Homo sapiens: one gene and its partners. The protein of the gene in region 3 purifies or fractionates together with the protein of the main gene of each other region. This does not show direct contact. Each region holds a gene or a part of one and is shown on either strand. Other genes may lie near its edges.

The links.
Region 1: the proteins of PHF14 (region 3) and ANAPC1 fractionate together in Homo sapiens (co-fractionation; one large-scale study listed by BioGRID). This does not show direct contact.
Region 2: the proteins of PHF14 (region 3) and MIER1 purify together in Homo sapiens (affinity purification with mass spectrometry, with the first as the bait; one large-scale study listed by BioGRID). This does not show direct contact.
Region 4: the proteins of PHF14 (region 3) and MRPL39 purify together in Homo sapiens (affinity purification with mass spectrometry, with the first as the bait; one large-scale study listed by BioGRID). This does not show direct contact.

The regions. Positions count from the first base shown.
Region 1 is NC_000002.12:111,860,173-111,863,947, forward strand, and holds part of ANAPC1 (anaphase-promoting complex subunit 1), read right to left. Parts: intron 3,724-3,775; coding exon 3,503-3,723; intron 2,427-3,502; coding exon 2,217-2,426; intron 1-2,216. UniProt on the Homo sapiens protein: Component of the anaphase promoting complex/cyclosome (APC/C), a cell cycle-regulated E3 ubiquitin ligase that controls progression through mitosis and the G1 phase of the cell cycle.
Region 2 is NC_000001.11:66,959,466-66,963,240, reverse strand, and holds part of MIER1 (mesoderm induction early response protein 1), read right to left. Parts: intron 3,563-3,775; coding exon 3,498-3,562; intron 154-3,497; coding exon 81-153; intron 1-80. UniProt on the Homo sapiens protein: Transcriptional repressor regulating the expression of a number of genes including SP1 target genes. Probably functions through recruitment of HDAC1 a histone deacetylase involved in chromatin silencing.
Region 3 is NC_000007.14:10,980,269-10,984,043, reverse strand, and holds part of PHF14 (PHD finger protein 14), read right to left. Parts: intron 1,673-3,775; coding exon 885-1,672; intron 1-884. UniProt on the Homo sapiens protein: Histone-binding protein. Binds preferentially to unmodified histone H3 but can also bind to a lesser extent to histone H3 trimethylated at 'Lys-9' (H3K9me3) as well as to histone H3 monomethylated at 'Lys-27' (H3K27ac) and trimethylated at 'Lys-27' (H3K27me3).
Region 4 is NC_000021.9:25,585,041-25,587,978, reverse strand, and holds the end of MRPL39 (large ribosomal subunit protein mL39), read left to right. Parts: intron 1-189; coding exon of another isoform or gene 190-282; exon of another isoform or gene 283-369; intron 370-2,224; coding exon 2,225-2,272; 3' UTR 2,273-2,323; downstream 2,324-2,938.

The DNA of each region.
Region 1 (3,775 bases), on a different chromosome or scaffold from region 3:
CTTATAGTCCCAGCTATCTGGGAGGCTGAGGTTGGGGAATCACCTGAGCCCAGAAGGCCAAGGCTGCAGTGAGCTGTGATTGAGTCACTCACTGTACTCCAACCTGGGTGACAGAGTGAGACCCTGTTTCAAAAAAAAAGAAAAAGAAAATACTGGGGCAAGATGTCATGAAAACTAATTTTATTATAGTTCAGCAAAAACAAAACTCTCCTTGACCAAGACTCCCTCTAATTTTGTATCTTCATTCCTATTCAAAGGCAAACTCCTTAAAGAGTCTGTATGCCTATGTTCATTTCCTCAGTCCCCATTTACTTTTTCTACCCCACTTTCCCCCGCCACCCTCCCAGCTTAAAATGCTCTGGCCAAGGTCACCAAGGAACCCACTGCCACCCAGGTACCTCCTCTCTGGGTTCAACTCTCAGGGCCACACTTCACCAGTACCTGGCAATACTGGCATCTCTGTATTCTTGAAATGTTCTTTTTTGTATTCTGTATTTCCTGCTGCTTCTCCCATCTGACCTCTTTTGCTTTGTCTCTCTGTGCCAGCTTTGTCTCTTTCCATTCCCCAAATCTTAAGTTTCCAGGACTTCAGTTCCTAGCCCTCTTCTCATTCTACACCACTGGATTTTAACTATTTGGAGGCCACAAATCCCTTTGAGAATCTAAGGAATGTTAAAACCCTCTCCTTGGGAAAAGGCCTATATACTACATGTACACACAATTATTGAATACAATAATTCTTCAATTCTAATCTAATTCTCTTACCTCAATCACCACCTATAAGCTGACAATTCCACATTTATTGTTCTGCTCTTTCCCAAACTTCCGACACACTTATAAAGTGCCTTCTTACCGCTGTCATCAAACATACCAGAGGCCTAAAGGGCAATCAGTAATCTCTCAAGCCTCCTTTTTTTCTTTTTCAGACAGTCTCACTCTGTTGCCCAAGCTGGAGTGCAGTAGTGTGCTCTTGGCTCACTGCAACCTCCAACTCCCAGGTTCAAATGACTCTCTCACCTCAGCCTCCAGAGTAGCTGGGACTACAGATGCACGCCATCATGCCTGGCTAATTTTTGTATTTGTAGTAGACATGGGGTTTCACCATTTTGGGCAGGTTGGTCTTGAACTCCTGAGCTCAAGTGATCCATCTGCCTCAGCCTCCCAAAGTGAGTGATTACAGGTGTGAGCCACTGCGCCTAGGAAGCCTCCTCTTCATTAGCCTTTTCCCTCCCCTCTGCAAAAACCAGAGTGGAAGTACTTGTAATTCCCTAAATACACCACGCACTCACCAGAACTTTTGTTCTGATCCCAGCTGCCGTCTGTGGTCTTTCTCAACTTCCCTGCCTAGCGAATACCTATTCGTCTTTCAAAGCCCTACCAGCAAAAGTAGTCCCTCCTGTGTCACCATCCTTCAGCTATCTGCCTCTTTTGAGGACAGGGACAGTGACTTATTAGACTGTTAACTAGCACACACATTGGCATATAAATTAACACGTGAATTATTAAAGAGAATATAAAAGAAGAAAGGTCACCCAGAACAGAGATCTAAGCTATGTTTCCCAAAAAGTAAAGCTGGCACTCAACTAACATGAACATAAAACTTAGGAAACGTGCTAAAACCCCACATTTCCTCACGGATGGAAATTAACTGTTTCTCCCCAGAACAAAAAACACCCGAAAAATGAGAGATTATTACTATAAAGGAAGAAATATCAGATGACAAAATAATATTTTTATGATGACTTTTTTTTTTTGAGATAGTCTCACTCTGTCACCCAGGCTGGAGTGCAGTGGCACGATCTCAGCTCACTGCAAGCTCAGCCTCCTGGGTTCAAGCAATTCTGCCTCAGCCACCTGAGTAGCTGGGATTACAAGTATGCACCACCACACCCAGTTAATTTTTGTATTTTTAGTAGAGACAGGGTTTCACAATGTTGGCCAGGCTGGTCTCGAACTCCTAGGCTCAAGTGATCTACCAGCTTCAGCCTCCCAAAGTGCTGGGATTACAGGCATGAACCACCACGTCCAGCCTATGATCACTTTAATATCATTAATATCCTCTACTGAAACTGAGGTGGCCTTAATACATATCTCTATATATTTTTACATATATTAATAACTGATCACATTAAAAGGAAACTTTAAACAAAATGCCATATATTTCCCAAGACTTTCAGCAACATTTTTCTTTGAATATAATAATATATATAACAAACCTTATATTAGTAATCGTTTCTGTCCACAAATGGTCAATACACAGTTCAGGAACAATTGGCTCCGTTTCTGGTGCAAGAAAGGAGCCATTAGAATTACTATTTGGAGAATGAGAAATACTATGTCTCTTTGGAGACTGATTATGGCTTGAAATGTTGAACCTTTGCACCCCTGAAAAAGAGTGCACTCCTAACGCAGGAGAATGAGCACGACTGCAAAATAAACAGAGGAGAGAGTACATCACAGTTAGCAAGGCAGGCTTATATGACACACACTCCAATGACACTTCCAAAAATTCCACAGACAGAAGAGCATTCATGGCATAATCCAGGTCAGAAATTAAAATTTTTCAAAAAGGAGTAGCTATTTAAATGGTTCATGTCAATGTGCTTTACTATATTCTAAAGATTTAGAATTATTATTAGAAGAACTCATCTTTTACAACTAAAACTTAGATCATCTTCTTTTTCGGAAAATGAATGATTATTCAAAAAGCTCTAAACTATGTCCCTGTATAGTCAGACATATATATTTATCAACAAAACAATGTCCCTGTAGCACCAGATATACATATCTGGTCATTTAAATATATATCTATATAGAGAAATAGATACATTTACATATCAAATAACAAGTAAAAAAAAAAGAAAAACTAACATAAATTAAGGCAAAAATAAAATAGTGCCACAGTATTTTGGGAATTAATATTCATCAAACTGTTGCCCACATAGTGGTAGAAATGAGGCAACTAACCTTAGGTCAAGCATAGGCAGCTTCAAAATATGACTCAGGAAAGAATGTGACATGGTAAACTTAGAAATCTTAGTAAAAGTGGCTCAGGGCTGAGCACGGTGGCTCACGCCTGTAATCCCCGCACTTTGGGAGGCCAAGGCAGGCAGATCACAAGGTCAGGAGATCGAGACCATCCTGGCTAACACGGTGAAACCCCATCTCTACTAAAAATACAAAAAAAAAAAAAACTCAGCCAGGCATGGTGGCAGGCGCCTGTAGTCCCAGCTGGAGGCTGAGGCAGGAGAATGGCATGAACCCGGGAGGCAGAGTTTGCAGTGAGTCAAGATTGCGCCACTGCACACCAGCCTGGGTGACACAGCAAGACTCCGTCTCAAAAAAAAAAAAAAAAAAAAAGGCTCAATTGGGATAATGGCTATTTCCCCTAAAAAACATCTCCCCTAAATATATTTCCCCTAAAAACAGCTGTCAACAGAAATTCTAAATCCTTCAAAACAAAACAGAAAGCTTAGAAAGAAAAACCAGGAAACCCTTATACCTTAGAGCTGCCATGTTGGAAATAGAAGGTGAGCGAGAATGTAGACTGGGTGATGAGGTTGAGCGACTCTGGCTGTGAATGGAGGAGTAATTCTGGAAAGGTGAAGTCACAGGGGAATCTCCTTTGGAGAGGCTTCTGAGATGTGCTGTGAGGGAGCTGCTAGTGGCCACATTCTGTGGGGTTCCCCCCTGTTCAGAGAACTTTAAAACAACATTCTCTTCCTTAAGTCAAAATAAAGAGAAAGAGGAAAAAAAAAAAAACAATAATTAGAAT
Region 2 (3,775 bases), on a different chromosome or scaffold from region 3:
TTATCACATTTTACATATAAAGTAACAGTTCATTACACTGAAAGCATAAATTCAGCTACGTAACTTTACTAATAACCCACCTTTTTCATTTTCTTTGTATCTACAAATGCCAACTGGAATTTCTGCTTGAAACATGGAGCCCACCATAATCTCCTATTTTAAAAATAACATAAAACATTAGTAAGATCTAGTAACAGATTTTATATCCATTTTCTAGCCTTACCATCTTAGTAAACTGTTCCTGGTTTCTCTGTCATAAAATACAAAAACAACCAATTAACTACCTCAGAGGTACCTTTGTGAAGATGAATGACAAATAATGACTGGATGAAAATATTAGTAATAATACTGAGGTGAAATGCAACGTAAACAATAAATACAAACTTTATTTCAAAATATAGAGACAAAGAAGTGAATTCTGATAATTCCATTAGTAAGACAACTGCAAAACATGTAAAACACAAAGTCAAATTCAGATATTTTCAGAGTATCTACACTTAAGACAGTGGTCTTAAATATGATCCCTATATGAGCAGCATCAGTGTCATCTATGAAATTTTTGTTTTTTTGAGACAGGGTCTTGCTCTGTCACCTAGGCTGGAGTGATCATGGCTCACTGCAGCCTCGACCTCCCAGGCTCAAGCAATTCTCTCACCTCAGTCTCTGAGTAGCTGGGACTACAGGCACATGCCACCACACACAGCTAATGGGAAACTGTTAGAAATGCAAATGCTCAGGTCCCACCCCAAACCTACTGAAACTCTGGGGACAGGACTCAGTCATTGGTATTTTAACAAGCTCTCTAGGTGATTCTGACATAGACTGAAGTCTGAAAAACAGAGCTTCAAAGTAGGAAAAATAACAAAAAGGGTTTGTATAAAGCTCAGTAGGGGCCAAATGAAAGAAACTCTAAATGAAATAGATAAGCAGGTTATGGCTTGACTTTCATTAAAACAATACAAAATGAAAAAGTAACCTCCTCCCACAAATATAATTAAATAGGAAATCCAGTAATCATATCTATACAGTCAAATCACAGATTAGGTGAAACTGGATGTTCTCAAAAGCAACTGCAAACTACCACTGGTGAAATTTCACAATGCAAGGAGACCAAGATTACATGAACCCTCTTTTGTGTGATGGCTAAATGTTAAGAACACATTTACTGACATTTTCAAAATTGGGCATGAAAGGTACAAAATCATGGTCTAGAAGTTTTGGTAACTCTTAGGATTTGGAAAGTCTCTCTCCTGCTATTGTTACCTCACTGATGTGAGGAGCTCATTTTATCCAGTACAACTTCAAAGACGTGCTTTATGTAATAAAGTTATTTCTATACCCATAAGAAAAACCAATCTTTCTCATGATCAGTTTTCTAAAAAGAATCAAACTTACAACAAATTTTCTCTACCCTTACAATGGAATTCTCTTTATGTCTTCTACTATAAAAAGAGTCCTTTATTGTCACATCTTGTGCCTCTTTTAACTTAACTCACCTAGGCCTACCAAAGAACATTGTCAAGTTACTAACCCTGGCTGGGGTGCTTCTAAACCATCAATGCCTGGATCCACTGCAGGACAATTAAATTAGAATCTATGAATGAAGGCCCTGGTAGTCAGTACATCTAAGTTATCCAAATGATTCTAACATAAAAACAGGGTTGAGAACATCTGGATTAGTTTAAAGATAGGTACTTCCTTTTTCCTGTTCAGTTCTGAACATTTCTTTTCATCTGTTAATTTGTTCGGTAGTACAGGGAAGGGAAGGGAAATAGCTTTGAAGATCATTATGTGTTAACATATCATATATGCAATTTTCCTTTAATCTTTCAGCAAGCCCCATAAGGCTGACATTGTTATTCCCATACTATATGTAAGAAGATGAAGCTCAAAAATTTGATTTTCTCAGGAGCACACAATTACTAAGTTCTAGAGCTACAACTAAAATTCAGGTTTGACTTCAAAACTGTTTCCCCTACCTTAAGTTTCTATAAAAACTCAATTTCATCTTATAAGTCTTAAAAAAAAATGAATCTCTGAACCTTGACAATTATTTAAAACAACAAAATCATACTGAAAGAAAACAATCTGCATTTACTCTGGCCTGCTTTATTACATAATTTTTTTCTGAGAAAGGTGTGGTTAATTAATACCCTTTCTGAGTAAGGTGTGGGTAATTAATACCCTCCAGCAATGAGAGGTGTTCTACCTCTGAGCTTTTGTTCTTTCATTTAAAAAAAAAACACTGAATGCTTAATCAAATACTCTACTGAACACTCCAGATTAAAAAACAACACATGTTGAAGATACATAAACTTGAATATGAAGTGGGACAGCAATTTATAAGGACTCCCAAGGTTTCTAGCTTTTTTCATCTTAATTTCTGCACACTGTAGGAATCAGATTAAAAACAGGATGAAAGAACCCTTGCCCAAATAGGCCACACAAATTAACTTTTGTGATTCTTGTTTTCTGTCGAGTCCCATCATTTGCTCAAATTAACACATACCGTAAACTGGGCTAACCTTGTCTCTCAACAAAAATAACATTATTTCTTTGTTTTAACCAGTTCTACATAAAAAATTTTTTTGAAGACATGGGGTCTCACTATGTTGCCCAGCCTGGTCTCAAACTCCTGGGCTGAAGTGATTCTCCCTACCTCAGCCTCCCAAGTAGCTGGGACAACAGGGGAAACATCACTGCAACCAGCTAATTCTACATAATGTTTAGATAGATTTTTCCTAAGAGCTCAGTTCTTTTACAATAACTTACAATTCTTTAACTTAACTGTATGATTAATTATATGCTATATAATTTTATAATTAAAAACTAATCTCAATATATTATCTTTAGATTCATTTCAGAAATTAATTGTATATAGTTACGAAGAAGCCAAATCTGTTTCTTCATATAATAAGCTTATCAGTTGTAAATGTCAACATTAAATTCAATCATTTGGAGAGTTTTTCTTTTATAAAGTAATACAGAATGAAAAACTTGCAATATGAACTACTAAACAAAATTTACTTAACAAATATCAAAGCCTCCACAAATGCTTTCCATAATATTGAAAAACATATACGTGATACTTTTTACAGGGCAACAAATGCCTAATTTGGCACTAGTTCAGGACTAAATCAGAAATGTGGATTTCTGTTTTATTTATTTTTTGTTTTGTTTTATAAAATGAGACAGGGTCCCGCAACGCTGCCCAGGCTGGTCTCGAACTCCTGGGCTCAAGCGATCCGCCTGCCTCAGCCTCCCAAGTGCTGGGATAACAGGCGTGAGCCACCACACCCCGCCAGAAATGTAGATTTCTAATCTAACCTAGATGTGTTAAGAAGGAATCTGAACATTTACCAAACATTTAAATGTCATAAAAGGGCTTACATCGATTTTATCAATATACATAGTTAGTAAAAAAAAAAATAATTACACGAGGCTTTTTAAAAAAATATTAATTTATCTAAATTTTGGGAAAATATTGTTCTAACTACCTTTTTCCAGTCTTCTGATGGAATATAATCTTCATCTTCTTCAGATTCTTCTTCTACTTCACTATCTAGAATAAATAAGACACCAATACTATAAAATGACTGCTTATCCTGTCTAAATCTACATATTATTTTTACATCTACCATCAAATATTTGGATATGCTCAAAGATATCTAATGAATTAAGCCAAGATATTTCTAACCAAATAATTAACACCCTATCACTTAAAAAAACAAAACCAAAAAAACCATAAACTTTCTACATAATTGTATTCTCATGA
Region 3 (3,775 bases):
AGAATTATTACAGTTCTACATGTGATGTAACAGATACATCTACATGTAAGACAACAACTCAATCTTTCTTTTGAAGAAAAACATATACAAAAACACACAGACAAAGAGACACAAATGTGTTTGACTGAAGAGTCTTGAATGATGCATCTCTGAGATCAATGAATAAACCTAACTTTCAGTAGTAGAACTTCAAGTAGAAGCACTGAGCCATTACTGCAGTTTTGTGACAAAAATGTCTGTTTTATGATGGAAATGTTTGGGTTTTTATTCCATTTCTTTGTAGAGAGAATTTATTTACTAAATATATGTAAAAATAGTTCATACTTATGTGTATGTCCCATACACATAAAGCAAAGATTTGGTGACTAAAAAGATGATGAGTGCTACAACTGGTAAAGGAATTAATATTTAAAACGAATCTCTAAAGGTTTCAGAAAATCATTAGACTGTTGCCCTGCTCTAAGGTATTCTAAAGGCCTATATTTTAATATGGATATGGACACAACTAAGTTGAAAGAAAGGTGACCTTTGTTTTCATAATGCACTCAGCACCATTCAGCAGTCCTGTGAACAAAGGAGTAAAGGGATAAAAAGGAGAATGGAAAACTTTGTCATTTCCCAAGTCTATGGATATAAAAATATTTCTCTAAATATTTCTCCTTGAGGACAGAGATTGTGAGCTCCTTGAGAACGGTGACAAATAGTAGATATTTAATAAAAGTCTGTTGGCCAAATGAAAAAATGTTACAGTTAGGGTGCTCATTCATCCCACAGCCGTCTATAAATAGGATTTCAAGGAAGCCACTTAATACAATGTGTAGAGTGATTTAGAGAAGAATTCCCTTTTCCCCAGACAGACAGATATAAAAATTGGGTTGATCTACCTCATTACTCTTGCTTTGAGATAGGGTCAGGCTATCATTGGTCAGTTCCTCATCATCAGCACTGTTTCTGCTAAGAACTTTACTCTTCTTCTTCTTGCAACCCCCTTCACTGGCAGGGCTACTATGATCTTCATCATTGCCTTCATCATTCTCGTCTTCATCACTCCCGCTTCCCTCATCTTCATCATCCTCATTGTCTCCATCACTTCCCTCTTTCTGAGACGCAGATCTCCCTTTTCTCTTTACTACAGTAGGTCGCCAATCATTGTCATCCTCACTGTCATAGTCATCCATGTCATTCAGCTCTTCCATGGACACAAAATCCAGAAGTGGTCGGTTTCGTCGAAGGTTCCATTTTTTTGGCTCGCTGACTTGTTCCTCTGTAGCGGTTGTCGTAGTGGGAACAGAAGGGGATGTGTTAACAGCAGGAGGACTTGTGGCTGGTGTGGTGGCAGCAGCAGAAGCAGCCACATTCTCAGATACTGTTGCTTTTTCTTTTTCCTTCTCTCTTTCCTTCTCTTTCTCCTTTTCCTTTTCTTTTTCCTTCTCTTTCTCCTTTTTCTTTCTAGGTCTTTCTCCATTTTCTTCTTCTTCCTTCTTTTCCATTTTAATTAATTGTTTTTCTGATGATAGTACTTCTTCCTCTGCAGAATTTTTAAGTTGTTCTTCTTTTACTTTAATATCTTCATTCAGTTCTTCTTCTAAAATATTTTCTTCAGAATCACTACAGGAACCTTCTCCACTGTCCTTTGAAGCATCTTCACTTCCATTACCACTCCCTTCAGAATCTGTTGAAAATATGAGAAAAAAAAAACCACACATATGTATATACATACACACACACACACACAACGCTGACACAAATGAAACCACCAAAATTTGTGAATAACTTGCAAAACAATATAAACAAATTTAAGTCAAAGAATGGTAGACATTCCCAACCTGATCAAATAATAAATCAATGAAGTTGATACAATGGTTTTAGTTCAGTATAGTGCTAATGAAGATGAATATAGATAACCCTAAATTAAAATATGCTTTAAAAAGAGAAGCACTAATTTGTGTCATATGGCAATATTTGGTACTGAAAAGGCAATTATTTTTTAAAGTAAATGTGCTTCTTTTAAGATTGGGCACTTGATTTTAATTTTACTGATAATACAGACAAAATTCTTCCTCCCTTAAACATCTTTTATAAACTATATGGACTTGTAAGTATTGAGTCAAAACCAAAACAAGATAAATCTAACCCATAAAACTGCTTCATTTATTTTACTCTTTACCCAGTAAAATAAGCATAGATATTTATGATAGTCAACTTATACTACAACTCTAATATACCAAACAAATTTTAGGAATACCAAGAACACAGGTGAAAAGAGACAACAGCAATGGCACAGAAAAAGGAAGTTGCAAGAGAAATTATCAATCTTCCTGTTTATTAGGATACTGTTCGTATCAATAAAAGAAGAGTCACTACACTTTCAAAACTTCTACGCAGTAACTACTATATGCTCTAGAATGGAAGAAATTGATGAATAAAGCAGTCCATCCTGAAAATGAGCAGTCACAGAGGTTACTAAAAAGTTAGGCTGAAGACATTAAAGAGCTCACAGGACTGTAAGCTTTCTAGCAGGTTTCTTCCACTCCTGCCTAGGGCAGCCCAGTCCCTCTCAACCCAACACTACTTAGTAACTCAGTAATCATTACTCAGTAAGTACTCAGTAATCATTCTTTTTGTACCCAATTAAGTAAATAACAATCTAAAATCTTTGAAGCGAGAAATAAATGGGAGGAGGGAAAGAGGACAGGGAGCAGTAGGAGATGGGGAAGAAACCAGTTAAGTCTTAGCCAGTAAAATCCACAGGATGATGAATTTTTTTGCACCTATAGCCAAGAAAAAGGTAATGATAAAATGGTGGAAAAAGTAAAGTGTTTCCACATCATTTTAATTTCTATTAACTCAACTAGGCTTAACCTCTGTAATTAACTAAGCACTAAAATTGAAGGAAGCTGTCTGTAATTAGTATCTGGTATCTAGTGAACCCCACAAGTCACATACAAATGACTGCTAACAAAAACATCCTGCAAGCAAAATTGCATAAAAAATAAACACTAACATTTAACAGATACTGACTGACCCTATGAAATCATTATCAATCTCACAACTGTCATGTAGGTATCCATAGCTTACTTGGGACTGTTCTGAAAAAAACACTCTTATCCTAAACAACCTTGCATAGGATACAAGAGCAATATCATACGGGTCAGCAATTCCCTATCTGAAACTTTAAGAACCAGATGTGTTTCAGAATTCATAATTTCTCAGATTTTCAAGGGTAACATGGAACATGCACCATATATTACACTAATACCCCCAGTGAAGTCCATGGTATTATCCTATAATCAAACATTATTTCTGCGGAGAAAAGTATAAATCCTATTTACAGAGTATGAGAAATAAATACTACAAATAAACTCCTACCAGTTCCGTTAGGCTTTGCCATCAAGTAAGTTTGTGTGAACCTTACAAAACACTTGGATTTTTAAGCTTCTTGGATTTCAAGAGTGTGGACCCAATATTACTCACAAACAAGTGACTTCTTTTCAGTCTCTAAAGCATTAAGAAAATTATGATTTTGTAAACCACTCACAGCAATTAAACCCAACCTACCAAGAAAAATCACATCTGGTAAAAATAACAATAATAGTAATCTCTTGACATTTTAAAATTATGATTTAATAAATAATAACCAGAGTTGACTCAACACTTCTAAGACACAGAAAGATTTTTTATGCACACTGACTAAAGAAAACTGAAACACCTTAGGCTCTAGAAGGGAAGCAATGCCATAATTAAGAGAGCTAGGAGATGAAGATGAAAGAAAAGG
Region 4 (2,938 bases), on a different chromosome or scaffold from region 3:
CTAAGTGTGCCTCTTTTACTTAGGTTATCTGATAGCTGTCCTGTGTAATCTGTCCTCATTAGGACTTCCTCCTTATCCTAATTTCCCACAATGCCACAAACACTGGTTAAGCTTGCAGGCACATTAAGCATCACACATTAAACTTATTTTCAAGTTTGCTTATTTCTTCATGATAGTTTTTCTTTCTAGACTCCATTTCCCATTCTCCTTCTATTTACTACGCAGTCATTCTTCACTACCTCGCCTGAGTCGTACCTCCTCCATGGAACAGTCTCAGAGTAATCTCTAACAAATAATTATTCATATAAGTTTGTGCTTGATTGTATATGTCCACATACTATTTTTTGATTGTTTTCTTTGCCAGTACATTTATTTTCTGTCTGTTAAGCCTTTCAGGATTTGTTATATTTGTGTAAGCCCAAATTTTGAACACAACATTAGCACATGAAGGGGTTACCCAAGAAATATTTATTGACAATTTTTCATAATGATATATAAACCTAGTCTTTATTAATGACTATGTAGATAGGAATTATTGTTTAGGGACTTCACCATAATGTTCTTGAGTAAGGGTTATATAATTTTTTTTCTCATGAGAAGAAATTACCTTTGAATGGATGGAGTAATTTTCTCTTTTTAGTTGGTCACAGTGATCATTTTAGATGAAGAAACTAAAGAAAAAATGTTCAGCATGTTTACTTGGAGTTAAGTAAAATTAAAAAAAATTTAAAAAGCTAAAGAATATTAAAGAAATAGTTTGGAAAATTAAAGAAGCAGTAGTAACTGAACACTTTAAAGGAATGAAAAATGTAGAAAAACGGCAGAGACAGTGTCTTACCTAGAATATCTAGTGATGTTAGTCAATACATATTTTTTCAAACATTTATTCTGGTTTAGTTGCTTTTTTCTACTGTCCATTTTGCTTTTCTGAAGGGATTAGATTAAACGTGGTTCATTGATGCAACACAGACTTACTGATTGTTTATTGTGTGCCAGGTACTGTTATGGTCTGGAGGTACAAAAAAATGCACAAAATTTACTTGCTGCCTCAGGGAAGTAATGTTGATTGGATAATTAGACTTATAAGCAGACAGTTCAGGTGTACATGTGGGGCTCTGGCATAAAGAAGAGGACTCAGACCAAGCTGGGGAGTTGCTTAAGGAAGGCTTCCAGGAATTGGAGTCTCTTAAGCTGATTTTAAAGGGTGAATAAAAGTGGACCATGCAGATAATCTGTTGGAAAATGGGTTGGAGGTTATCTCAGAGGAAGTCACTTGCCTACATAGAGAACATGATGAATGTAAGATGAATTTGAATGTACAGGTCACATGTAGGATAGGTAAAGAGTCAGTCCAAAAACAGAATATGAGGGGCTTGTGTCCCGTGTTGTGGAACTTGCATTCCTGACTTTCCTCCTCCACCCCACTGAGATGCTAGAGAGTAACTGGAGAATTTTGAGTAGGGAAGTGACCTGTTGATCAGCTATTCTTGTTTAAAAGCTCATTCTAGGGGTAGCATGGGATATAGCTGTGACTTAAGCCAAGAGTTCTGTTAGGGGGATAGAAGAGAATGAGGTCCTAAAGTTCAGCCGCGATAGGGAGAATGACTGTGAGAGTTAACTTAGGCTGAATTAGTAGGACTGTTGATGGAATATGCAGGTAGGAAGAAGAGAGTGAATTCTTGAATGCTGTCCTTAGGTATCTGGGTGGAGCCCTTTACCAAGATAGATGATGCAGGTAGGACAGGTTTTGGGGTGTTGAATTCAGATTTAGCCATGTCTGTTTGATGAGTCTGAGTGACACAGAATAGAAATAGGGACATAGAGATATCTATTTAGACTAAATCTGTAATATGTTCTATTCTAAATGGAATTATACTCCAAAAGAAAATAAACTGATTTAAAATAGCTTGTTACAGCACTTCAGGTGTTTTTTCTTACACTAATGATTTTGTTTTACGGCTGAAAAGTAAAATGGCCAACTTGAGAAGCCTAGGTATAATATGCCTTAGATTATATTTTTGAATGGAATTATTGTTCTTTACCTGATAATTTATATTGGTTACTTGGCCTTTAAATCTTTCTTCTTACCTAACTTTCTATTCTACTATTTAAGGGGAAAGATAAAGGGTCATTATAAGAGGGCTGTGGAATGATTTAAAATGGTGGGTGAAGGGTAAAACTGAAAGTGTTTATTAGGAAAGTAAAGCTATTCATGTTTTTACAGGTAACTGAAGATCAAAGTAAAGCAACAGAGGAATGTACATCTACCTAATAACTTTCTAAAATTTAAATATGTATAATAAAATAAATGTTTTAAATATAATGTTTGTGTGTGCTTATACAGATTAACCCTTTCTCCCCAAGATTGATAGTGATCTTTACTTTTTCTTTTCTCTAAAGTATGAAACACTTCATGTTGCTTAAGTAAAAACTGTACAAAAACAGGTCACTCCCTTCCTGCTCCATGGATGCAACACTTTAGCATGTTTTCTCTATTTTTTCCTACAGATCTAGGCAGATACATACAAATATAAATGTAATTTCTAAAAAACATAAATAGGACCATACTATACTTGCTTGCGTTTTTTGCCGAACAGTGGCACAGTAAACATCCTTGTGCAAAAATGGCAAATGTTTGTAGATAAGTAATATTAACTGAGTATTTATCATGTGCTGGGTCTTGTGCGAAGCCCATCACGTGTGGAACCTTTTCTATAATCCTCATAGTGACCTGTTGAGAAGATGTTTCTATTTTTTAAATGAGGAAACAGCATAGAGCTTGAAAGTGGTAAAGTGGGAATTTGAACGGAGGTAGTTTCACTCACATGCTCTTATGTTCTACTCTATGTTGCCTCACGTATAAATAATTCTGTAGAAATAGATTTCTGGCAGTGGAATTACTGTCAGGTGCTACCAGATGCTGGCTTCCCAAAGGTTT